Regions from separate parts of the Homo sapiens genome. Here regions 2, 3, 4 and 5 are each linked to region 1. The links come from fine-mapping of genetic effects on gene expression. A gene starts in region 1. Each other region holds a variant in brackets. All regions are shown on one strand. Distances are from middle to middle.

Region 1 (5,111 bases):
AATATTATTATAGGTTTAATAGAAGGAAGATACTATTCAATTCTGATACTGTCCTTGGTCTGTTTCTGTATTTGACTTCAATAATTCTCATATAGGAAAGTTCTGTTTAATAAGGCTATATAAAATGTTACTGGTACCTTCACAGTTTTCTGCTTATGATTATCAAAGAAAAAGCTCTGCCAATATGCAATTTTTCAATGTCAATTTTATTAAAGAATGTTTTGATAATTCTGTAAATGCTTTATAATCCCACAGCAATATGTGTCCGTTGCAGCATTATTAAAATCTGTATTTATATCACTATTTACTTATTGCTTTGAATTAAGAACATGAAAAATTTTATCTCGAAACTTTATCATATATATATCATACAATAAATAAGTCATAATGTATTAACTATATATTATGACTAACAACCTGCTGTAACTTTAGACATACAAAAATACCTCTTAATGAGTGTAAAATGTTAACTCTTCTTTTGAGTTCAGTATACCTGTACCACAGTGAGTCCTAGGACATTTGAATCAATTCTCTCAAGCCATTTGCCTATTTGATTATGAATCTCTGTTTGGTCACTGGGCATAATCTTACATGGACCTCATTCTAGACACATATATCCATAAGCAACAAAAATAAAGTAATTGGGATCCATCACAATAACTATGAACAAAGTAACTATCCACATGATCTGGAATTTGCCCATATTTGTGGCTTGTTTTCTGTATACTGTTTTTGATGGAGATATTATAGTCCCCTAATAATACATATACCTACTTCAGCTTAAGAAAAAACTATATTTTGCCAAATTTTGTAATCAGACTGGGTTTAAATACCAGCTCTGATGACTCATAACTCTGATCTCGAGAAATTTACTTACCATCTCTAAACATTAATTTCTCAATTAGGGAAGTGATATGACAAAGTTGCTGTGAAGTCAAATGAAGGAATGAATGCAAAATCCCAACCCTTTACATATTACCTCTGTTCTCAATTAATCATTGGCTTGAACTGAACATTTTTAACATGGTTCCCTGCTAAAGGTGTTTTTACATATAGTAAGACCTAATAGATAATATTATGTTACATAATCTATAATTATTATATATAAAACTATATAAAATTATATAGTACCTATTTAGACATATAAAAAGGGAAGTTTTTTAATGAAAAATTAGATTGGCTGAAGAGTGTGGAAATCATCACATAGGGAAGTGGTCAGCACTGTGGATATACACCAAACAGTATTACAGAGACATACTGAAAATAAAGCACACTGACAGAAAGAAACCTCATTAGGATAGAATTTTGGGAGATTGGTGTCTTGTTATTCCCAGAGTCTGACTTTTCTAATCACGTAGCATTGTCAGGGATATCTAAATTTTAAACTTCAGATTTTGTACAAAAAAACCTAAAAGGACTATATTTTAAAATAAGAAGCATGTACAAATAATTGTAAAGGAAAGAGTGTGAGTTTTGTAGTCTCCAGTTCTGTGTCAGTAAGAATTTGATGAGGAATAGCCAATAGCATTTATGCTGGTCCAGGCTGGATCAAATTGTGATCGTACTTCTAGTCTTCAAGCTGCCTGGTTAGAAATTATGCAGCTTACTTTGATGCCTGTCCTACTACTACTATTAGCCTTTTAGTGGTTACCTTAAGAATAACTGAATAATACTGTTACTTTGCATCTCTCAAAGACCGTGCGCTGTTCCCGCATACTTTCTTGCAGACGTATTGTCTTCTGAAGGATGGTGCCCATGGGCACAGCAATTTGGGGCATCTTTTGGTAGGAAGCATGATTTCTCCTGTTTGGGCACAAAAGAGTGACTACGGAATATAAGCTAAACACCTTCTCCCAGAAATATCAGTTGTAAAACTTAGCTCATTAATGTAATGTTGAACGTTTTCATGTGAGTCATACTTGAACTTCTTGAATGTGAGTAAATAACGGAGTTGAATTGTATAAAACCCTGATGGATGGCAGAAGGGAAAGAACATCCCTTTCATCTGATCCATGCCTGAGATTCCTTCCCTCTACTATACTACTGGAAATAAACAACTTGTCTGGTGCTCTAAAAATTAATGCTATTATCATTATAGAGAGAACAGGAGTGAGTGCTTTTAGGTTATTACTTGTTCTTACTAAGGCATCATATTCTTTCTTCACGTGTTTTGTGTTTGAGGCTAGGGATAAAGGTACAGGAAAAAGGATCTAAGAAAAAAACTCGAATCTCTAAACATGGAGTCTTTTTTTTTTTTTTTTTTTTTGAGGTGGAGTCTCACTCTGTTGCCCAGGCTGGAGTGCAGTGGTGCGATCTCTGCTCACTGCAACCTCCGCCTCCTGGGTTCAAGCAATTCTTCAGCCTCAGCCTCCCGAGTAGCTGGGATTACAGGCGCATGCCTGGCCAATTTTTGTATTTTTAGTAGAGACTAGTTTCACCATGTTGGCCAGGCTGTTCTAGAGCTCCTGACCTCAAGTGATCCAGCCACCTCGGCCACCCAAAGTGCTGGGATTACAGGCATGAGCCACCACACCTAGCCAAACATGGAGTCTTTACTCAACATTATAGTAACGTGAAAGAGGAGATCATGAGAATTAATGTATGTTTTAGAAGGCATAGATTACTTATAAAAAAGGAAAGATCAGGCTGGGCACGGTGGCTCGCGCCTGTAATCCCAGCACTTTGGGAGGCCAAGGCGAGCGGACCATGAGGTCAGGGGATCAAGACCATCCTGACCAACATGGCGAAACCCTGTCTCTACTAAAATACAAAAAATTAGCCGGGTGTGATGGCACACGCCTGTAGAACCTGGGAGGCAGAGGTTGCAGTGAGCGGAGATCACACCACTGCACTCCACCCTGGTGAGACAGCGAGACTCCATCTCCAAAAAAAAAGGAAAGCTCAATCTGCTGTAAATTATGTGCTTGTTTCAACAACCCTTGTTTCTTTTCCTTTTCACTTCTCTTTTTTTTTTAAAGCGGCCTAAATGGGGTGAAGAGTGAGTTATCTGACAAATTTAGATTTTGCAAACCTGTGCATTGATGAGAGTGCTATTGAAACACATTAAGAAAGATTTTCAACGCAGGAATGTGTCATTTCCTTTCTTCATGTACCAGATGCTGAAATACTATGAGATAAAGATTTTAGGTTTCAATTGTAAAGAGAGAGAAGTGGATAAATCAGTGCTGCTTTCTTTAGGACGAAAGGTAAAGAAAAAAAAAGGCTTATTTTAATGTTTTTTCCAGAATTGTTTCTATTGATTGTTATGTGTGTACTCTGTGTGTGTGTGTGCATGCATGTGTGTGATATATATTTGTGTGTCTGTGTGTGTATGATGAGATGAATGCTTTATTGTATCAGCAATAATTTGGTTTGGTTTTTTTCGATAATCAAAAAATAGGGATTTCTGCTAAATTTTCCATGAGTGAAAAACATATATGTTCACAAGTACATATGAAATACACTAAATGCTTTGTAGTTTGAACCAGCAATGGGGTTTTTTCATATAATTAAGCATATTTTGTTTAAAATACTGGTTTTATTCAAAGTATAATTTGACATATTTCACCTATTCTCCTTTCATAACTTTTCATGGAACATTTTTGGCTTTAATCTAATGCCTTTTATTATCTTCCCTTGATTATATAGCAAATATTGGCTGGGTATCTACTATATGCACTTCATTGAACTAGATGTGGGGAAAGGATACAAAAAATAAGATATAGTTCTTTTTGTGCTCCGGAATCTTATGATTTAAAACATATCCCCAAATAGGCATAATGTAATTTGAGCACCTTAAGTAGTATGAAAGTACTATAGATAATTACTAGCACCTTAAGTAGTATGAAAATGCTATAGATAATTACTATGAAAATATAGGCGAGGCCAAAATTACTTCTATGTGAAAAAAGTCTATCAAAAATAAATCTTCATGGAGATGCTAGAAATCTGATTAATCTTGAAGACTAAGTAAGATTCACACAGCATATAATGGGAGGTTGGCATTTGCACTGACCAGGTAAAAATACTTATAGAAAAACCATAGAACTGAGATTACAGATGTTTTATGCAGTGATTAGCCGTTTTATGCAGTGGGTAAGAGCTAATCTTCTGGGAGTAGACTGCCTGTGTTCAAATTCCAGCTCCCCTGCTCCCTAGTTGAGTAACTTGACTAGTTACTTACACATTTCAGTTCCCTAACCTGTAAAATGGAGAAAATACTACTTGTACCTCATGAAGATTCCGTGAGAACAAAATAAGAAAAGCTCATATTTAAAAAAAAAGTGATATTTTAAAATAACAGGGATTCATATATTGATGGTTTTCTGTGTACCAGGCAATTTACAAAAATTATTTTTAATTCTCGCAATAATTCTTTAAATTTATATTGTGATCATATTTTACATATCTAAAGAAAGTTCAATTCAAATAAGTTAAAATATTTGCCTAAGATCACACAGCTAAATGATGTCACAGTCAATACTCAAATCTAGATTTCAGATTCAAAAGTTGATGCTCTTTCTTCTTTGCTACCAAGGATGAATATCAGTGACATCAGGCACAATATAAATATTTCCATTTCTTACTAAAATCTGTCTTACAGACGGGTTCCTTAAGCATAAAGCTGTTAGTTTCACAAATAATCTTAATTTAATTTTCATTTTATATACACATTCAACTGCTGTTACAAAAATCAAAGTTATTATTTTATATAATAAGGAGGATCACAAGCTTATTATTTATTCCAAATGTTGAAGATAAAGTTGGCCTTAAGAATATGATGGGCCGGGCACGGTGGCTCACGCCTGTAATCCCAGCACTTTGGGAGGCCAAGGCAGGTGGATTACCTGAGGTCGGGAGTTCAAGACCAGCCTGACCAACATGGAGAAACCCTGTCTCTACTGAAAATACAAAATTAGCCGGGCGTGGTGGTGCATGCTTGTAATCCCAGTTACTCCGGAGTCTGAGGCAGGAGAATCACATGAACCCAGGAGGCGGAGGTTGTGGTGAGCCAAGATCACGCCATTGCACTCCAGCCTGGGCAACAAGAGCGAAACTCCATCTCAAAAACAAAAAGAAAGAAAGAAAAAAGAAAGAATATGATAAAAAAA
Region 2 (5,111 bases), 350 kb before region 1:
GAGGCGGGCAGATCATGAGGTCAGGAGATCAAGACCATTCTGGCTGACATGGTGAAACTCCGTCTCTACTGAAAATACAAAAAAAAAAATAGCCGGGCGTGGTGGCAGGCGCCTGTAGTCCCAGCTACTCGGGAGGCTGAGACAGGTGAATGGCGTGAACCCAGCAGGCGGAGCTTGCAGTAAGATCGCGCCACTGAACTCCAGCCTGGGCGACAGAGCGAGACTCCGTCTCAAAAAAAAAAGTGTTTCTGTATCAGTTGAAATTATCATATAATTTTTCTCCTTTATTCTCTTCATGTGTGGAATGACACTGGATTTTGGGTATTTTGTGCAATAAAAGTCTGGAATAAATACAAAATGGCCAATATATGTATTCATTTATAAGTGTTTGGTTTCAGAGTTTGCATCCATGTTAATGAGAGGGATTGGCCTATAATTTTACTTTCTCACAATTCCTTTGTTGATGTAACAAGTCAGGTCGAGCTTATAAGATCAATCAGGAATTATTCCCACTCTTTCTGTATGCTGAAGAGTTCGTTAAGATTGACATTATTTCTTCTTTAAATATTTGGAAGAATACACTAGTGAGCCATTTGGGCCTAGATTATTTCTATGGAAAATTTTGCTTATGGGCTTAGATGTTTCAACAAATGCAAATTTTATTAAAATATCTATTGCTTCTTGCATTTTTTTTATTTTAGGAATATAGCATATTATTTAATTTTCAAATGATATTTCTCCTATTAAAATCTTTTAAATATCAGAATACTTTTTTCCTAACACTTGTAAATTTTACTTTCTCCCTGTCTCCTTTTTTTTTTATCCATCTTGTCAAAGTTTTTTTTTTTAATCGCTTTTATTGGTCTCAATCATTTTTTGACTGCGTACCTTTTATTTAATTTTTTCCTTTTCTTCCATAATCTTCCTCTTATATTTATCATATCCTTCTTTTTAGAGTCTGTTGCTTTTTTTAAACTTCTTCCGTTTTATTTTTCAATAATTCAATGTTAATTATATCACACAGATTTGGATATGGTATGTTGTCATCATTCAGTACAAAATATTTTCTATTTTCCTTTGACTCATGGATTCCTAAGAAGTGCATAATTTAATTTAATTCCTAAACATTGGACAATATTCTAAGGTATCTATTTGTTTCTAATTTTCAACTTACTTCCATTGAGGTCATAGAACATATGGTATCTGAATTCCATCTATTAAAATTTGTTGAGGCTTGCTTTATTACGGTGGTTAATTTCAGCAACTGTCTCGTGCCTTTAAGAATAATATATATTCTGAAGTTTTGTGGTTTAGTGTTCTATACATATCACGTCAGGTTTGTTATCAAAGCGTCTGTATCTATACTAATTTCTTTTGTTGGTTCTTCCAAATATTACTGAGTTATACATGTTAAAATCTCCCAGTATGTTTTTAGATTTACTTATTTCTCCTTTTAATCTTATCAATACATGCTTTATATATTTTGAAACTATGGTATTGGTTGCATATACATTTTGGATTGATATATTGCCTAGTAGATTAATCCATTTACCTTCTTACAGTTCACATCTTTTCGCTGTATTTAAGTTACTATTTAACTGGATTTAAGTTTTATTTTCAATGATTTTAGTTTTAATTTTATAAGTTCTAGAATTCTCTTTCAAAATTGTCTCGTGATGGTTTACAGGATTTTTTTCTTGTTAATATTTCTGATAACATCTTTTATTTCCTTAAGCATTTCATTAGTTTTTACCTTTTAATATATAATCATTTCTAGATCTAATGTGCTTACTCTGCTCATTATTCTTTTTAACTTCTTTATGTTTGCGTTGGCTTGTGAAAATTTCATTGTTAAAGTCTGGTAATATTTTCACATTGACTTCGTTTTTTACTACAAGATGGAAACTCTAAAATATCTATCTCATTTTGGAATGTTTCTCCCAGAG[A/G]GAATTGTGTTTACTCTTTTTGCTGTTGGCAGAGCCATCCTATGCCTACACATTAGTCTTTGGCTTTCCTTCTTCCCTCCTTCCCTGCCTCTCCTCCTCCCTTCCTACCTTCCTCCCTTTCTTCCTTCCTAGCTTTATGAGTTTAGCAGTGCAATTAAAATTGCTTGGAGTAATGTACACAACTTTTCACAATAGCTTGTTTGCCATACTTTCAGAAATGGCTGCTTTTGGTTATAAATTTTCACTGTCAGAAATTTTAAATTCTTCTGGAATTAAATCTACAAATATTTTCATTTGATAGCAATCTCTTTCCTTAATGCTTAAAACATTCTTATCCACACTATTTTTTTTACCTTTTATCAATTTATTTGCCTATTTATATTAAGATATTTATTTAATTCTAGCTCTCCTTTTAGTTCTTGACTTCGGGTAAGTTATTTAACCAACCTTTGCAAATTTTTCAGTTTCTTACTCTGATAAATGGCTTAATAATTGTCTCATAGTAAGTAAAAATATTGTTATTAATACTAACATTATTAATAAAAATAATTTAGCTGATATAGTCTATAAGGTAAGAATCTCATTTGAAGCTGTTTTAAATTGTTAGCTAATTTTCTTGGCAGAATTACTTCCTTATTGCTTTAGGATGTGTTTTACATACGTTACTGTGTCTTTCATTTAAATGCCTCTTCTTTCTTTAGAAAATAGCAACTTTGAGAAATATTATTTTTAATATAAAATTTAATATGTCTTAGGTTAAGACTTCCCCAACTCTCTTCATTTTTAACATTATCATCTCCATTCTTGCTAGTTAATTCTAGAAAAAATTATAATTCTTTTCAAAGTATTTTAATTATGTCATAAATCTATTTGCCTTCTACATTTTTTATCTCCTTAGATAGAAGTACTAATACATTTCTTAAACAAAAATTCATACAGAGTTCTTCAAAATAATATATATTACTTATTGTGAATTTAGTGTTAAGAGAATTATATGCATGCTTTCACCTAGGCTTTACAATAACACTTTGACGCGAATTTTTTTAAATGTTACAAATAAGAAAACTAAGACTCAAAGAATTAAATTATCTCACCAAATAAAAAGTTATTAAGTGGTGAATGCTACCTGTTATCATCTTATATGGATGTTTTTGTTCCTTCTTCCTTTATGATTTGCACTTTTTAATCTTTTTGGCATGTCAAAAAACCCAAATCATTATTGTGAGATTCTCTACTGAAAAAAAAAGAATTCAAAAATTAGCCGGGTGTGGTGGCGCATGCCTGTAATCCCACCTACTCGGGAGGCTGAGGCAGGAGAATCGCTTGAACCCGTGAGGTGGAGGTTGCAGTGACCTGAGATTGCACCACTGGACTCCAGCCTGGGCAACAAGAGCTAGACTCCGTCTCAAAAAAAAAAAAAAAAAAAAAAAGCCTGGGGCATAATGAAGTAGAAAAAACATGGACATTGGACAGCTTTGTAGAGTATCTGGCACAATAATTGACCCTCAGCAAGTGACTATGATTTTTCTTATAACTAATTTTGAATGGTAACAGCCACATACAATCAGAGGATGATTCCGGCTGCGCTTATACAGGTTTTCATTTTTTGTATAATATCTATGTGCACTATTATTATAATCAAAACCATTTTTGTTCAACTTCTGGAGTATCTATTTTGAAATTAAATTTTATCACCCTTTGAATGACTTAATCAATTTTTTCATTGCAGTAAAAAACAATTTCTCTTTATACTTTAGTATTTCATAAAATATTCTTTACTATTACAGATTTGTTGTGAAAATAAACAGATACAATAACCTATATCTCTATATTTTCTCATGATAGTGATTCAAATTATGATACCTATTAAAATTCATATGCAATGCTATAATTAGAAATAGGGTAAAGCAGATGGCATATTACTTATAATTCTGTTTTACAAAGGAACGTACATGTACTAAAGGAACCTAATTGCAGCATTTTAACATGTTTAGATATTGAAAATCTATTGCATTTCATAATCTTGTTAACAGTTTCTGCCTGGAAGAATATGATTAAATGGAGAAGGTATAAAAATAATTTCGATGACTCCCCTTGTATAATTCACCAAAACAACCTACGAAAAAAGACAATAAGGAGTTGGCAAGTTATTTAAAAATTTGTAATTTTCCTCCAACCTTTAAAAAACAACAGATGCTGTCAAGGATGAGAAAAAGGAACAATTTTACACTGTTGGTGGGAGTGTAAATTAGTTCAACCATTGTGGAAGACAGTGTGGCAATTCCTCAAAGATCTAGAAGCAGAAATACCATTTGGCCAGCAATCTCATTACTGGATACATACCCAGAGGGATATAAATCATTCTATTATAAAGGTACATGCACGCATATGTTCACTGCAGCACTAACCACAATAGCAAAGACAAGGAATCAACCCAAATACCCATCAGTGATAGACTGGATAAAAAACAATGTGGTACATATACACCATGGAATACTGTGCAGCCATACAAAGGAATGAGATTATGTCCTTTGCAGGAACATGGATGAAGTTGGAAGCCATTATCCTCAGCAAAGTAATGCAGGAACAGAAAACCAAACACCACATGTTCTCACTTACAAGTGGAAGGAAAACGAGAGAACACATGGATACACGGGGGTAGACAACACACACTGGGGCATATTAGGGGTGGGGAGGGAGGGTATTAGGAAGAATAGCTAATGGACCCAGGGCTTAATACCTAGGGGATGGGTTGATAAGTGCAGCAAACCACCATGGCACACATTTACCTATGTAACAAACTTGCACATCCTGCACATACAACCCGGAACTTAAAAGTTGAAAAAAGATTTTCAGATAAAAATGTGAATAAAGCAGACAATTCCTTTAAAATTTAAAAGATACAGTCATGGAAAAAAATATCAATGGGTTATGAAAGTGTACAATATGGTTGAACCCAATTTGGTTTATCATATTTTTAGGTGAACTGTGGGTTAGTTACATTAACATTTACCTAATTAATATAGTAACCTTAAAAATTAGATACTACATCCTCATTTTACAAATGAAAGAAATAACCACATAATGTTAAGTAGTTTTCCCAAGGCTATACAATAGCAAGTGAGAGGCTTAAAAAGTAGGTACTTGAAGTTAATGAAAAAGCCT
Region 3 (5,111 bases), 350 kb before region 1:
TAGACTGTCTTTCTGCTCTAAATTCCTATGCTCATACGTCCAACTGGATGATAATATTAGCTACAAATCACGTGTCTATGTTCTAGTTTAAATTTTCTCTTTAGGCCTATGACTTTGGGCTCAGTGTTTATGTTTTGAAGATCTTTAATTTCCTCAAATAAAAAGTGATAGGGTTTAAACAGATGATTCATTTCCAATATCTATGAAATTCCCTAACATTTGTACTTCTTAGATTATAGTAATATTTAAAGCTATGAAGATGGGTTTATTGCACTGTCTCGTAGTGTTTCAGTGTGATAAAGTTAGGATTGTTAAAGAAACACTTCTGCCATGCACAGTTAGGCTCATAATTCAAGAAAGATTGCAGTTCAGAAGGTAAGAGGGTAATATGAGAGCCATTATTCTTGGGAAGTCTAAGATGCTGGAATCCAAAGATGAGTAGACTTGACCCTGGAGTTCTTTTGTCTCCTGTTCCAGATATTCTGGCTTTTTCTTATAAGACCATTAACAAGAACACTTGTATTGATTTTTATTTGTCATATAAATTGTAGGAGTTAAGACTTGAGCTGTTTTCTTCTACAGGGAAGGAATTTAATCTAGTGTAAAAGCCAGTTGATGAACTATTTAGAAAAATAGGTGATAGACACTGGAACTACTTTATTATAAGCCATAAATCCTTAATTTGATCTTGATTAATGTTATAGTAGAGCCAGAACCCACAAATTTTTATTTAGAGAACCTTTGGGATTATGTAAATCTATTGGACATAAATGCCTTTGAGAATGCAAACCTCTAGGTTACCATTGTTTAGACCCAAAAATAAGATTAGTAGACATTTACTTCCCAGTTACCTCAAATTCTTTCCCCATGATATTTAATAAAATTTACACTTATTTTAGATTTCATTATTTGCAAATTGAGTTTCTGGCTAAGTTCATTCACCAAAATGAGCAATGTAGTTTTTTCTAATATTCAAAAGTTTTTTTAGTAGTGACTGTGAAATTATAAATCGGAGAATATAAAATTTTATCATTAGAAATGATATGTTTTAGAATGCATATTATTGAAACTGTTTACATACTTTTGTATATAATACTTACTGAGGTTGCTTGTAATGACAAAACTTTGCTAAAATTAGGAACATAAATAAAGATACCCCACTTCACAAAAAGTTGCCACAGAATTAAGTCAAGTAACTCTACATTAAATTTAAAATACAATGCAAAATGTTGATCATTATTACATCCAATTTTAAGAAAATATTTTTGTACCAAAACAGAAAGCACAGTGAATATGGAGACACAAATTTGAACGAAATAGCTGAAAACTGAAAAAAAAATTTTTATTCAGAGTCAAGACATTTTTGTTTTGGTTATATGTCTCATGATATTTTTGCTAAAGAGTTGGAGTCATTATTTTTCTTTCTTTAGAAATATTTTAAAATCCATTGAAATCATACATTCAAATTACTACTACTCATTTTATGAAAGCTAAACAGTATTTTCATACATTACAAGTTAATCATTTATTGCCAGATATCAATCTATAGCCAGACTATTAGGGCATTCAAGATATTGATCAAAATACTGAAGTCCAGATATATGAGGTTTACATGTCATTATGACTAGTTTAACTGATCTATATTTTAGTGTTGCAGTTGACAGGTAATATGTTTATAGTTCGTTCTTTGGATCAACATGTTGTTGAAGTTTCCCCCCAGATTTCTGCAGTGTCTTTAAAGATGCTTTATGAAAAAAATGTAATGGTAATAGTAAAATCATGGCTGTGACTTGCCTTTTAGTCACCAGGGACCATTAGAAAAACAACTAGCTAGAGCTGGCTTCCTTTGCCTCAATGGATTCCTCTAGGCTCTACCTCTCACCTTCAAATATATACTCACTTTTTCTTTCCTTGTTCCTCCAGTTTAAATCCCTTTGTCTCACCGGTGTTCTTTTTCTCAGTTTAACCCCTTTAGATTATATTTGGGTATGGGATTCTCTGCCTGGCTTTCATTTCATCCCAGGAAGTGGTTTCTCAGATCAATCTTTTAGTCTCTGCACAAATGCTCTATGTGTGTCAGGTGACACCTAAATCTGCCCCAGGGATATTTCAGCATTTTTGGTGGCCTCTACTTTTTTCTGGGAGGAAGCACCTGGTATTACTAAGAGTTATACTTCCTGTCAGTGATACTGACCTGAGTTCAGGAGAAAGAAAGCACACAGACCATAAGTTTTAAGAGAGGTGAATTTTATGTGTTGTTTTTGTCTTTAAATAAATGAAAAGTTGGTATTTTTTCATGGTTAATAAAATGTCAAGCCATTACTTGCTGCAATTTGTCTTATTATGTCTATGTCATAATCAGTTGAAACAGTTGAGATTAAATCGAAGAAACAGAATCCTACTTATATATGTGATAAGAAACTTATGATAAGAATTTGACCTTATATATTTGTAGCAGCTGGTTAAAGTCTGTATAAAGCTGTTTTGTGCTTGGGGTTGGAGCCTAACATCAGTAGAGCGGGTAGTCAGGAAGGCAAGATGATACTAAGTAGAACAGAGGATGGATAAGCTGGAATCCATGATGGCAAATTGAAACCTTCATATTTCTCCCTCTGCCTCTGAGACTTCAACTTTGACCATAAGAATACCTTCTAGGAGAGCATGATGTCCTTCATCACAGAATTAAATTCCCCTCTCTTTTACAACTTATGG[T/A]TATATAATGTCAGTGCGCTTTCTTTCTGCTGAAGTCAGGTCGGTATCATTGACAGGAAGCATAATTCTTAGTAATACCAGGTGCTTCCTCCTAGAAAAAAAAAAGATGCCACCAGAAAGAATGAAATATCCCTGGGGCAGATATGCTGTCCCAACTAGGATCCTGCAGAAGCCACAGGATGTTTAAGTGCTGTGGGCCAAATGGTGCCCCATACAGCCCCAGTGAGCCAGCAGCAACTGACAATACGTGTAAGCTGAATTCGTACGTGGTGTTCTCAATTCTTGTTTCAAGCATAGGTACATAGCTGCTGTTTCACTTTTACCTGCCAGCTCTTGCACAGAATATCTCTTGTGGCTTGCATTAACTTAGAACTAAGCAAGACAGCAGTGCTGGGAAACATAACTTGGTCTAGCTAAACTGACAAATACAAATTCACCCAACTGCATACAGCAATTGCCATATAAATTTACATGACCACAAACTGTATATAAGAATTCCTATTGGGCTTCCCATTCTCACCAATATTTGTTTTTGTCCAACTTTGTTTTTACATTTTTGCTATGATGGTCACTGTAAAATTATATCTCATTTTGATTGGTTTTAACTTGTACTTTTCTAATTCGTGATGGATTGAATATATTACCATGTGCTTACTGACCACTTGGGTTTCTTCTTTGGAACTGCCTATTCATATCTCTTGCCCTATCTTTCTATTGGGTGGTCTTCTGTTTGTCAACTTGAAGGAGAACTTTATAAATTCATGTTATTAATTTTCTGTTGATTTATCATTTTCAAGTATCTTTTCCCAATTTGTGGTTTGTTTTCTATGTTTTTAAAAGGTTCCCCTTAATGAACAAATTTCTTATTAAATTTAGTGATAATGAAATTTTAAGAGATTTTAAGAAATATTTTATAGTTTATATTTAAGTATACAAGATAATTTTTTAATATACATAATGAAATAGTTCCTATATTCAGGCAAATTAACATATCTGTCATCTTACAGTTATCCCTTGGAGTGCATGTGTGTGTGTGTGTGTGTGTGTTTGTGTGTGTGTGTGAGGTCACCTAAAATCTACTCTCTCAGCACACTTCCAGTATACAAAACAATATTATTAGCTATTATCCTCGTGCTGTACATTAAATTTCTAAACTTATTCATTCTACTAATTGCAACTTAGCAGCCTTGGAACTACATATCCCCATTTCCTCCCTACCCCCAAGAGTTCTTAATATAATTACTTTTTGGTATTTTGTTTAGGACATCATTCTGTATATTAGGCCATAAACAATTGTTAAGTTTTACACATTTCTTTCTTTCTCTCCTGTTCTAAAGCATGCTGTGAGATAAGTGTTCTATCACTATTGTTTGCCCCTTATGGATAACACATTGTCTCAGCACTAATTACTAAGTCCTGTCTTTCTCTCTAATACACAGTATTTATATGTAACAAGTTTCTGTATAGGTTGGTTCGGTTTTGGGGTTCTATACAAATTACTCTAGCTTTGTAATAAAACTTGATAATATTTCTTGGTGAGTGCTTTAGCTGTCACTGCCCACGAGATTTTCAAATAAAATTTCAAATCATAATATCAGTTAACTAAAGAAATGTAGTTTCCATTGGAATTGTATTAAATTCATAAGCCAGTTTGGGTTGAACTAATTGTCCTGTCTTTACACATAGAGTATCTCTCCATTTATTATAGTCTGCTTTAATATACAAAATTTTATCATTTGTTGGTATAAAGTTCTTGTCTAACTTTATGTGGGATTATTTCTAGGTGGCAAATAGATGCTTTTTGCTAAAAATTACTATATCTAATAATAAAAGTATGAATTGATTAAATATTCTTACCATAGTTTCTCGACCTTTGGTATATTTATATTATACAATCATGCATCTGCAAATAATGATAGTCTTTTTTTCTTTCCAATTATTAAATCTTTTATTTTTCTGGCCTTATTACACTGTCTAGAGCCTTTAGTACAATCTTTTTTCTTAATTTTTTTATTGTGATAAAAAACAGGATTTACCATCTTTACCATTTTTAAGAGTACAGCAGTGTTGATAAGGAGCTTAAAAAGAAATTATTTAGGCAGTTAGTGAGGGTAAGAGAGTCCTCAGTAAGGCTTCCCTTTTTACAAAAACGCAGCCCCCATATCATTCCTTCTCTAACAAAGAGCAGCCTGTAAAATCGAACTGCAGACGTAGATAAGGCAAGCTGGATGCTTGCACGGGTGAATGCTGGCAGCTGTGCCAATAGGATAAGGCTACCTGGGGGCCAGGCATGTTCAACATTGAGGCTCCCTTTTCCCTTTTCTTTGTCAACCACGTGTACGGTAAAGGAACCGGCAACATGGAGGTGGCCAGACAGAGAACCCATCTTCACAATAAAA
Region 4 (5,111 bases), 33 kb after region 1:
TGAAAGTAAATTGATCAAGAAACCTTCTGATTTCATTTTCTCTATTTTGACTTGATCTTTGAAATTGTTTTACTATATACACACTTATTAGGTTGACAGTTATTTTGATTCCTTCTATCAGTGTGCTGAAAAAATTGGTCCCCTGGCTTCAAGCTTTTCTTGTGGCTCTTAAAATGACTGCCACCAATCTGTTTGTCATTCTCTTTGTCTTTCATATCTGCAGTTTTACTTATCTGTGGTTTTGTATTGATAATTTATCCATCTAACATTTGCTGTACTTCTTATATTAGTGGATTTATGTCTATCAGTTTGGGAATATAACCAGCTTCATTCACTTTGACTATTGCTTCTTCACGATTCTTTCTCTCCTTTCCTCTGTAACTTACATGAAATTCATATTGGATGTTCTCATTCCAGCTTCCATGTCTGTTAAGCTCTATTTCATGATTTTAATATTTTGTCTCATTTTATATCATTAGCAACTAGAAAAATAGAACTAAGAACTTCATGTGACTTCATTTCAAATACACTAGTTTGAGAAAATTAAGAAGCCTAATAATCAAGTGATGACAATGAAAAAAAGAATAAAAACAAGTCCCAGAAAACTATATATAGACAATTTTTACTTCTAATGCTCATAGTTAGTAAAATTATGTAAATTTACAGACACATAAATATGTAATATAATCATTGTTTTAAAATTTAAGAAAATGATAAACACAAAATTCAGGGTAATATTTATCTATGAAAAGGAAATAGATGAATGAGATAGGGGAACATCTAGGTAGATACCGATTTCTTGGATTGTGATGTTGCAAGGGTATTCTCATTATTGTTGTACTTTATAGCTTGCTTATACAGAACACATATCATATATAGTATTTATCACAATAAAACAGATGATAAAGAAAAATTTGAATTAATCAGATTTTTCTCTAACAGTTAGATACCTCCACTTTGGATTTCAAATAAATGTCCGAAGCTTTACAAATTCAAAACCAAATCCTTGCTTCTTAACTAGCCACCCGCATCTGCCTCCCCAAATCTGTTGCGTTTTCAGTCTTTTTGTTGGTTTTGTCATTTTCCAACTACCTGCTCACTGCCTGATCTTGGAAGCTGTCTTTGACTTCCTTGCTCTCATTCTCTATGTAATCCATTTGTAAGTCCTACTAATTCTTATTTCATACAATATCTCAAACCAAACTTCTTCTTACTCTCTACTACTACTCTAATTCAAGCAACCATATCCCAGTCTGGTGTATTACATCCGCTTCTCAGTTGGTGTCCCTGGCTCTGCTCTTAGTCCATTCTAAATAGCAAAAAAAAAAAAAAAAAAATGCTATTTAAGAAAACCCACACAAATTACTGGATGTGTGTGGTTTCTCTCTTTACACTAGATGTGTCTTTTCTCTCTCTTGCTTAAATCCTCCAATGTCTTCTCATTAGTCTTGGGATAAAATCTAAACTTCTACTTGGTCTGTCACCTGTCTACTTCTCTGCCCTAATTTTCTCAATCTTCCCTCTGTCATCCTTCTGCCTAGCTTGGAAATGTGGAAGAATGAAGTGCCACGAACAAGTAAAAGTTAATATAGAAAAAGTGCTTGTTTCATTTCATGCTGTCCATAATGAACACTAGACATTTTCTCTTTCTCTTGAAAGGTTCTTCTCTACGTCTCTACTCCTTCTTGGCTCCACTTGAAGTTACCTCCTCCACTTTCCACCATTCTTATTCTAAACTCCCCCATCTCTCTCTACCATGATTTGCTTTAATTTCCTCATAGTTTTTACCACTATATGAAATCATGTCATCTCTACATTTGCTTACTTGTTTAGCTTGTATCTTCTCCAGCAGAATGTGAGCTCTGTGAGGTTAAGTCTTCTCCTCCTTGTCTACCTCTGCAATCCCAATGCCTGTTAGAGTGCCTGGAAAATAGTGGGTGAGCAATTACATATGTGTTGAGTGAATAAGTGAAACTAAGACTTTTGTCTTAGCAAGTTACACTCTATAATAGCAGTGTCATTCTTCCTGGTTTCCAAGCTATCAATTTTAATTATTTTATATCTCCCAAGACCACCATTAGTTCTCAACATTCTGTATTCTCTGTTCCTTTGTCATTTCTTTATATCCTCGTATAAATTATTCTTATGACTCTTTGCCAGAGTTGCAATTGTTTCCTGCCCAGACTGTAATCCTTTTTGCACCCTTGTAGAATACAGCCTTCCTAAAGGAAGTCTTAGATTGCATAAAGACTCTCTGTTGCCCCGTCATTAGACATACAGTTTTGCCTGTA[G/A]CACTCAAGGTCTTTTTCAGTGTGTCTCTTAACTAGTCTTGAATGCTTCATTCCCTCGCTTGTCTTTTTTGTATATCAAATATTTCAACTAATTTGACTGTGATTCTAATGTACCCAGTACTTTGTGCATCCTGCCTCATGTCTTTTCCTTTATTTGAAATATTTTCTCTTTGATTTGTATTCGAAGATATCTTGTTTATCATTCAAAGTCCATCTAAGATGCCACCTCTTGCATGAAGCCTTTGCTGGTTCTACCAATAGTAAGGCCCAGCTGATACTTATTTCTGTCTTAATATGGAACATTAAGTATTCTCTCACAAGAGAATACTTAATGTGATAGTTATGTATAAAAGTATCTCATATTCTCTTCGAGAACAGTGTTCACTCTTCCTGGACACAAGCTACTTCCATTAGAAACTGTTCTTTATATCTCTTATAGCACCTAGCCATAAAATATCTATTAATTAAATTATAACTTAAGAACCATATTTTAGAAATTAATGAGTGCTTTATCCTTTATCATGTGTTGATTGCAGAGTTAGTGTAATTACTTTGTGTTCTCTTTTCCCTTATATTAATAATCACTAAATAATTATACAGTTAAAAGAGACAAAGATTTTTTAATACATTTCTCAAATAGTTATAATAATTAGAGCCTTAAAGAACTACATAAAATTTCATTGTGGAAATGGTGAAGTAGAGTTTGGTGGAGAGTTGGGGATAACGTGATTTAAAGAAGCAAAGATGAACTCTAGAGAAAGGTATTTAAGAGAAATAAAATATAATATGACTCTGTGGTGAGAATAGCTAACATTTTGTTTATTTGGAAACATTTTAGATATATTGGCTTCCTAGGATATGAAAGCACCAAAAAAGAAATATTGATTTTTATAGTAGAGAAAATGAAAAAGCAACTGAGGGCATTTGAATTTGGAGTTTTGTATAATTAATTACTGAGATTGTAACAGCTGGACTGTAGGCTAGAAGTGGTGGCTCATGCCTGTAATCCCAGCGCTTTGGGAGGCTGAGACAATATAATTCCAGCACTTCAGGAGAGTGAGACATGAGGGCCTTTTGAGCCCAGAAGTTCAAGACCAGCCTAGGCAAAGTAGCAAGACCCTATCTCTGAAAAAAAAAAAAAAAAAAAAATTAACCAAAGGAAAAAAACTGAATTGTGAGTTTGTCTAACCACTATGTAAAGGAAAAATTCAGCTGAGGAATAATGGAAGAACAGATGTGGAAAATGAAGTCAATTAAATTTAGAACATGGTAGCATAGGATCAGGAAAGAAATGAAATTCTTCTAGTTCTGATTTAACCCAACTAGCTTTAAGACCTTGAGCAACTCACTCTCTGACCCTCTATAAATATGTTTAGTTAAACAATGTTTAAAGTGTCTTCCAGATTAAACATATCTAAATCAATGAGCATGAAAACTAGAGAAAAAAAAAAGAAGCAGGTTTAGGCAGCAATAGACTAGAAGATGTGGCAGATTTTTATGATGATCTGAATATGAGACAAGATTGAAAACGGAGTAGAAGATTAATGCTCATAATGAATAAAAACTAGAGAAGCATCGCTCTGGAAACTTAGTCAGATATTATTAGTGCTATGTTATCGTCTGAGGATTTTAAATGATATGATACACCTGGGTTTGTTTTTCTAGTAAATTGTGTAATTTTGTTCTATGATATTGATGATTATCAAATATTATATATCAGTACTTTTTTGTGGTTATATAGAAATATTACTTTTCCTTTTTAAGAAGTAATCATGGAGGAAGCTACATAGTAGATTTTGTGCATGTGTTGTATAAAGGTAATTCTTCATGGCAGATTATTGTGATAGTATTTATGAATTATTCCTGTAACTGTAATTGGAAATATTAAAGATGAAAAATAATGTAAATTCTATGGCTTCTTGAACTAGAATAAATCATATATTTTGGCCAATATTAACCCATTTTTTTTGACATGTATCAGCAAGGGAGCTGACAGGTAGCATTTTGTCCATTTATTGATGCAACGAGGCAGTTATTATGTCAGTATGGAACAAAATTTTGAAAAGACTAAATGGAAACTACGAACAAAAGGTGACTACAAGAGACTCTAAGTCTTTATTCTTTTTTCCATAATATGACAGAATAGGTTACTGCATTTCCTTAATTTGATAGAGACATTGCAAAACGGATTCTTATCAAAAAGAAGAAGAAAGCCAACACTGAGGGAACTAGGAGGTGAAACAGATAAAACACATTCAGACTAGATTAAAAATCTCTAGCAATAGTCCAGCTGTGTGATGGTGAAGACGTGAGCTACAATGGGAATGGAGAGGAGGCTAGTTTTGGAAGGTGGCAAGGTAGTGGATAGTGTTCTTAAAAGTTCTGCATCAGAAACTAAGAGTAAAGTGGTATATAATTTGTTATTTTATTCCCCCAATGAATCTAAAAGACACTTAAAACATTTATTGAGATCCTTCCAACATTTTGTTAGAAACAGTAAAAGATCTATAACAATGTACAAAAATGAAACATAATGTGAGATTAATGTTACATGAAGAATAGAATGACAATAAAAAGGTACATTCAACATGCCTAGTTAGAACTCTAACAAAAATCTTTACCTGTTTTTCTTATTGTAGGATTCGAATACCAGGTATCAGTATTTTTATATAAAAATACAGAGAGGGATCTTTAACTCCAAATTTTGTAAAATAATACTGATCTATTCGCTGTGATTGAACTAATACTCCAAAATTAAGTATACAGTTCCCATAATTACATGTAATATAATTGAAAGGATAGTTAGTAATTAGGAGAGTT
Region 5 (5,111 bases), 310 kb before region 1:
GATTGGCCAAACTCTCAGTTAAAGCAAATGAGCTAAGACTTACAGAAAAAGTAATCTGCCTTAAATGCCATTTTCTCTTTGCTTGGCCCCAAATGGCTGAATAAAAATGCTGAAGCTTCAGTCTCTTTAATACAGAAATAGACTTCAGTATCTGATGCTATCATCAGGAACTATGTATCTTGTGTGAGTGATTTTTTTTTGCTGTGAGAAGCAAGGTGTATTCATTGCCTATTTCTGTGGAACAAATAATCCCTGAACTTAGCAACTTAAAATAATAAACAGTTATTGTTTCATGATTTCTTTGGGTCAGGGATCTGTGTGTGGCTTAGTTGTGTGTTTGTGGTTCAGTGTCTCTCACAAGGCCGAAATCAAGGTGGTGGCCAGGGCCACAGTCCTTTCAAGGCTCACCTGGGAGAAGAAGGATCTGCTTTGAAGGTTATTCACCTGGTCATTGTCAGGCCTCAGAGGACCAATTTCCAGGCTCACTCACATGCTTACTGTCAAACACCAGGATTTTGCTGGTTATTAGCTGGAGATCTCTCTGAGTTCATTTCCTGCTGTGTGGCCTTTCCATAGGGCAGGTGAAAATATGGTAACTGGCTTCCCTCCGTAGGGCAGGTGAAAATATGGTAACTGGCTTCCCTCCAAGCAAGCAATTAAGAGAAGAAGAGAGATCATCTAAGAGAGAAGCAAAAGTCTAACCTCAGAAGTGCCATCCAATCATTTACGCTGAATCCTGCTCCTTAGACGCAAGTCACTAGGTCTAGCCCACACTCAAAGGGAGGAGGTGTGACAAAGAGGGGAATACTAGGAAGTGGGTGGGGATCACTGAGGGTCGTAATGGAAGTTACCTACTACAATCTGGCTTTACGTTTTAGTTTTTTAAAAAATCATTCACACACTCCAAAATCCCAGTTAATGGTTTTGTAGCTTACTGCATAATCCTGATTTGTTCTCAAGTTTTTAGTTGTCTGTATTTATTATTATAAGCTGCAGCATTTTTTTATTTATGAAAATAAAGAAATTGAAAACACAAAGGTGTTGCAGAATATGGGAAATCTATACTTAACAAACGCATGGAAGATGACACAATATCCCATCCACATTCCATTTCTCTTGTGAAATTTGTCACAGTGGAGGGAAAATAATGCTATGCTCAAAAGCCTATAGGTAACAGCAAACGATCCAAGTCAAAACAGTTCTCATCTATTCTTCAGAGGGTGTCTAAACTGGAAATATAGTTGATATTTTGTATTAAGTGCAATTGAATTGGTTCATGGTTTTCCTCTTTACATGAATTTACTAATACTGTTGTATTACAAATGGTACATTTTATAAGAGCCATAGTTTACTTTGTTTTTATCTATCTTTGGAGAGCAATCAAGAGACATAGAAGCAGATAATCAGAAATGTGAGGAAGGGTCTTTAGGAATTACATATATATTTGTTTCTATAAGTGGAAAGATGTTACTGAAAGGCAATAATTACTAATGGAAAGAGCTCAGTAGCTGGTTTTTAAATATTTCAAAATCGCTAATGGAAAATGAATATTTAGCCATGATAAAACTGTATAGACTAAATGATTAGTTTATTTGCTTTTTTCTGTAGTTCTATCACTGAAATATGAAAATTGTCACGTATCTGTAGTTCTCATTAGCATATATTTGCAGATGTGTGTATATATGTGAATATATATGTATGTATGTGTATATATATATGTGTGTGTATATATATACACACACAAACACACACACACACACACACACGCCAATAGTGTTGGTCAAATAAATTATTGTTGAGTAAATTCGGTTGGATGAGCAACACACCAATATTAGTTTTTTAAAAAATGTTGAAAACAACTACTCAACCCCTGTATTTACAAATGAGAAAAATTTGACACAGAAATTAAACTGACTTCTTGCAACACATATAGCCAGTTAGTGGCAAATTTGATGTTACAACCAAGATTTCTGATTCTTTTTTTTATTTCTTCTAAAAAAAAAAGTAACAAGAACAACAGAAAACGGGATACATGTGAGGAACATGCAGGTTAGTTACATAGGTATATGTGTGCCATGGTGGTTTGCTGCACCTATTGACTCATCCTCTGAGTTCCCTCCCCTCGCCCCATACCCCTCAACAGACCCTGGTGTGTGTTGTTCCTCTCTCTGTGTCCATGTTTTCTCATTGTTAAGCTCCCACTTATGAGTGAGAACATGAGGT[A/G]TTTAGTTTTCTGTTCCTCCCTTAGTTTGTGAGGATGATGGTTTCCTGTTTCGTGCATATCCCAGCAGAGGACATTATCTCATTCCCTTTTATGGTTGCATAGTATTGAATGGTGTATATGTACCATATTTTCTTTATCCAGTCTATCATTGATGGGCATTTGGGTTGGTTCCATGTCTTTGCTATTGTAAATATTGCTGCAATAAACATATGTGTGCATGTGTCTTTATAGTAGAATGATTTATATTCCTTTGGGTATATGCCCAGTAATGGGATTGCTGGGTAAAGTGGTACTTCTGGTTCTAGATCCTTGAGGAATTGCCATACGGTCTTCCACAGTGGTTGAGCTAATTTACATTCCCATCAACAGGGTAAAAGCGTTCCTATTTCTTCACAGCCTCGTCAGCATCTATTGTTTCCTGACTTTACTAATCGCCATTCTAACTGGTGTGAGATGATATCTCATTGTGGCAAAACTCCTGATTTTTAAGCCTCTTTTATTTTGGCTATAAACCAAGACTCTGACTTCATCTAGGTAAGGGCCAACTTTCTGAACAGGAAGAAAGAAAATAATATTTTTTAATTAGGACAAGCATGAAGACAAGAATCTAGCCTCCCTGGACAGCAGATGTCTTTCTTCTTTCTGCTCCAGGGCCTTGTCCCAAGAACCTATGTAGCTATGATGGACAAGATTAAGTAACAAACCACACAAGGGCTGAAAGCTGCTGGACAAGTGCTCTGGTCACCTGTCCTTAGGCAGTAATTTTGGAAGGTATTTTGTATGCTTTCATTAGTTCTAACTAAACTGAAGCCCTCTGGAGGTTCATTATGACAATGTTGATAATGTGCTTTTGTTTTAAATCACCATTCATGTGGTTTGACATACATAGAAATATTCACCGATTTTATGTATATGTTTAGATGATTTGTGACATATATATCGTCAGTTAAATATCCTCAGAATCAAAGATGTGGGAAATTACCATCACCCCTCAGTTTCTGCACATCCCATTAGTCAATGTCCTACTCCCATCTCTTGCAATAATTGATGAACTTTCTTCACTATAGTTTTACTTTTTCTAGAATTTTATATAAGTGGAATTATACAATGCAATGTCTCTTGTGTCAGGCTTCTTTCACAAAAAGTTATTGATATTGTGCGTATCAATATTCCCTTCCTTTTCATTGCTAAGCAGTATTACATTGTATGGATGTGTCATTTTTTTTTGCTTATTCATGTGTGATAGACCAGTTGTGGTATGCCCACATGACTTTCTAGTTCTGTGAACATTCACATGCATTAGGGAGCATATGTGTGTTCATTTTTCTTGGGTAAATGTCTAAAAGTGGTATTGGTAAATCATTTGACAAGTATATGTTTAACTATCCAAGGAATTAACAAAATAGTTTCCAAAGTGACTGTGCCATTTTGCATTCCCACCAGAAGTCATCCTTATCAATGTTTGCCTTGACCAGTCTTTTTAATTTTAATCATTCTGTAGCATGTGTAGTGGTATCTCACTGAGGTTTCAACTTGTATTTCAACTAATGACGTTGATCAGGGTTTTGTGTGATTTTTTTTTTTTTTTTGCCATTTATATATCTTTCTTGGTTATCTCTGCTTTTTTCTGTCTCCAGTTCTTTCTTAAATTATTTGTCATGTTAATGAGTTAGAAAGAAGTCTTTATTCTGGATTAGAGCTTTTTAACAGATAATTACATATATTTTCTCTGATATATCTTTTGCTTTTTCATGTTTAGAATCTTTCAAAAGCAGGAGCTTTAAATTTTGAATGAGTGTAATTTATAATTTTTTTCTTTTATGATTAATGCTTTTTAACTTTTTAACTTAATGCTTTTTTTGCCTAATAAATCTTTGCCTAAGCTGAGGACAATTCTCTTCTCCTGTGTTTTCTTATGGAAGATTTATAGTTTTAGGTTTTCTGAACAGGCCTATGATCCCTTTCAAGTTAATTTTTTGCATATCACTGCTTCCATCCTGTTCCGTTGTTCTATATGTATAGCCTTATGTCAATACTGTGCTGGCTGATATCATTGCACATATTTTGTTGCATATTTTAAGTATTTCATGTTTTTTCATGTGATTATGTTGTAATTTTAATTTAAATTGCCATTTGTTTATTATCACTATATAGAATTACAATCGATTTTTGTATATTGCTGTTATGCCCTGTTGCTCTGCTAAACTAACTTAATAGTTTCAATTGGTTTCTTTAACAGATTATTTAACGTATTCTACTAAGAAGATAGCATATTCATTCTATACAGACACTTTTACATCTTTCTTTTTAATTTTTATGCCTATTATTGCTTTCTCTTCTTTACTGCACGGCCTAAGACTTCAAGTAGTCCATGATCATGAAATGCAATGGTTGTAATACATAATGCATTATCCTGAAGCAGCTGGCCCCACAGAGCTCTGACACAGCCTTCTAAAAGCACAGTTAAAATGCCAGTTTAGAGACAACACTCTGAAAGAATGGGTGTTATCCTTCCGGGTGCATTACATGCTTTAAATTAAAGATTTATATGGTTCATTGTCCTCAATAAAAAAGGACACCAAGGAATGAAAAGTGATATACAATCAGTCTCTAAGACTGAGATGGTTTGTGTTATGCATTCCCACAACTCCGATTTCCATTGAACTGAAGGTCGTGGTTCCCAGTGTGGCACACTCTTGCCAGAGTCAAATAAAGAATTCCACTGGGCCACAAGTTATGGCAACTGCCAGGGCTCTTTGGACTTTTTGTGACCAGGAACCAGCAGATGAGAAGAGGAGTCACTATAAATCAGAGAAACCAGCAGGTGAGAAGAGGAGTCACCATAAATCAGAGGCAATTGACTCTGGTAGACAAGAAGACGTAACAC

The links. PIP is the estimated chance that this variant, and not a neighbour inherited with it, causes the effect.
Region 2: its variant is fine-mapped to the expression of MSR1 in T cells (TOPMed, PIP 0.97).
Region 3: its variant is fine-mapped to the expression of MSR1 in whole blood (TOPMed, PIP above 0.99). The same link has a PIP of 0.9 or more in blood mononuclear cells.
Region 4: its variant is fine-mapped to the expression of MSR1 in whole blood (INTERVAL, PIP 0.99).
Region 5: its variant is fine-mapped to the expression of MSR1 in whole blood (TOPMed, PIP above 0.99).

What each region holds. Positions count from the first base shown.
Region 1 is chr8:16,190,693-16,195,803 of GRCh38, reverse strand. MSR1 (macrophage scavenger receptor 1) reads left to right here and starts at 3,153. Exons shown (of 10, transcript NM_138715.3): 1 at 3,153-3,206.
Region 2 is chr8:16,538,259-16,543,369 of GRCh38, reverse strand. The region is part of intron 6 of LOC101929028 (a long non-coding RNA gene); the gene reads left to right. Among named protein-coding and RNA genes, the nearest start is that of MSR1, 350 kb to the right of the region's middle. The variant A/G (reference allele first, on the strand shown) is at 1,947.
Region 3 is chr8:16,545,306-16,550,416 of GRCh38, reverse strand. All of the region lies in intron 6 of LOC101929028 (a long non-coding RNA gene), which reads left to right. Among named protein-coding and RNA genes, the nearest start is that of MSR1, 360 kb to the right of the region's middle. The variant T/A (reference allele first, on the strand shown) is at 2,713.
Region 4 is chr8:16,157,260-16,162,370 of GRCh38, reverse strand. The region is part of intron 5 of MSR1 (macrophage scavenger receptor 1); the gene reads left to right. Among named protein-coding and RNA genes, the nearest start is that of MSR1, 33 kb to the left of the region's middle. The variant G/A (reference allele first, on the strand shown) is at 2,292.
Region 5 is chr8:16,505,287-16,510,397 of GRCh38, reverse strand. The region is part of intron 7 of LOC101929028 (a long non-coding RNA gene); the gene reads left to right. Among named protein-coding and RNA genes, the nearest start is that of MSR1, 320 kb to the right of the region's middle. The variant A/G (reference allele first, on the strand shown) is at 2,224.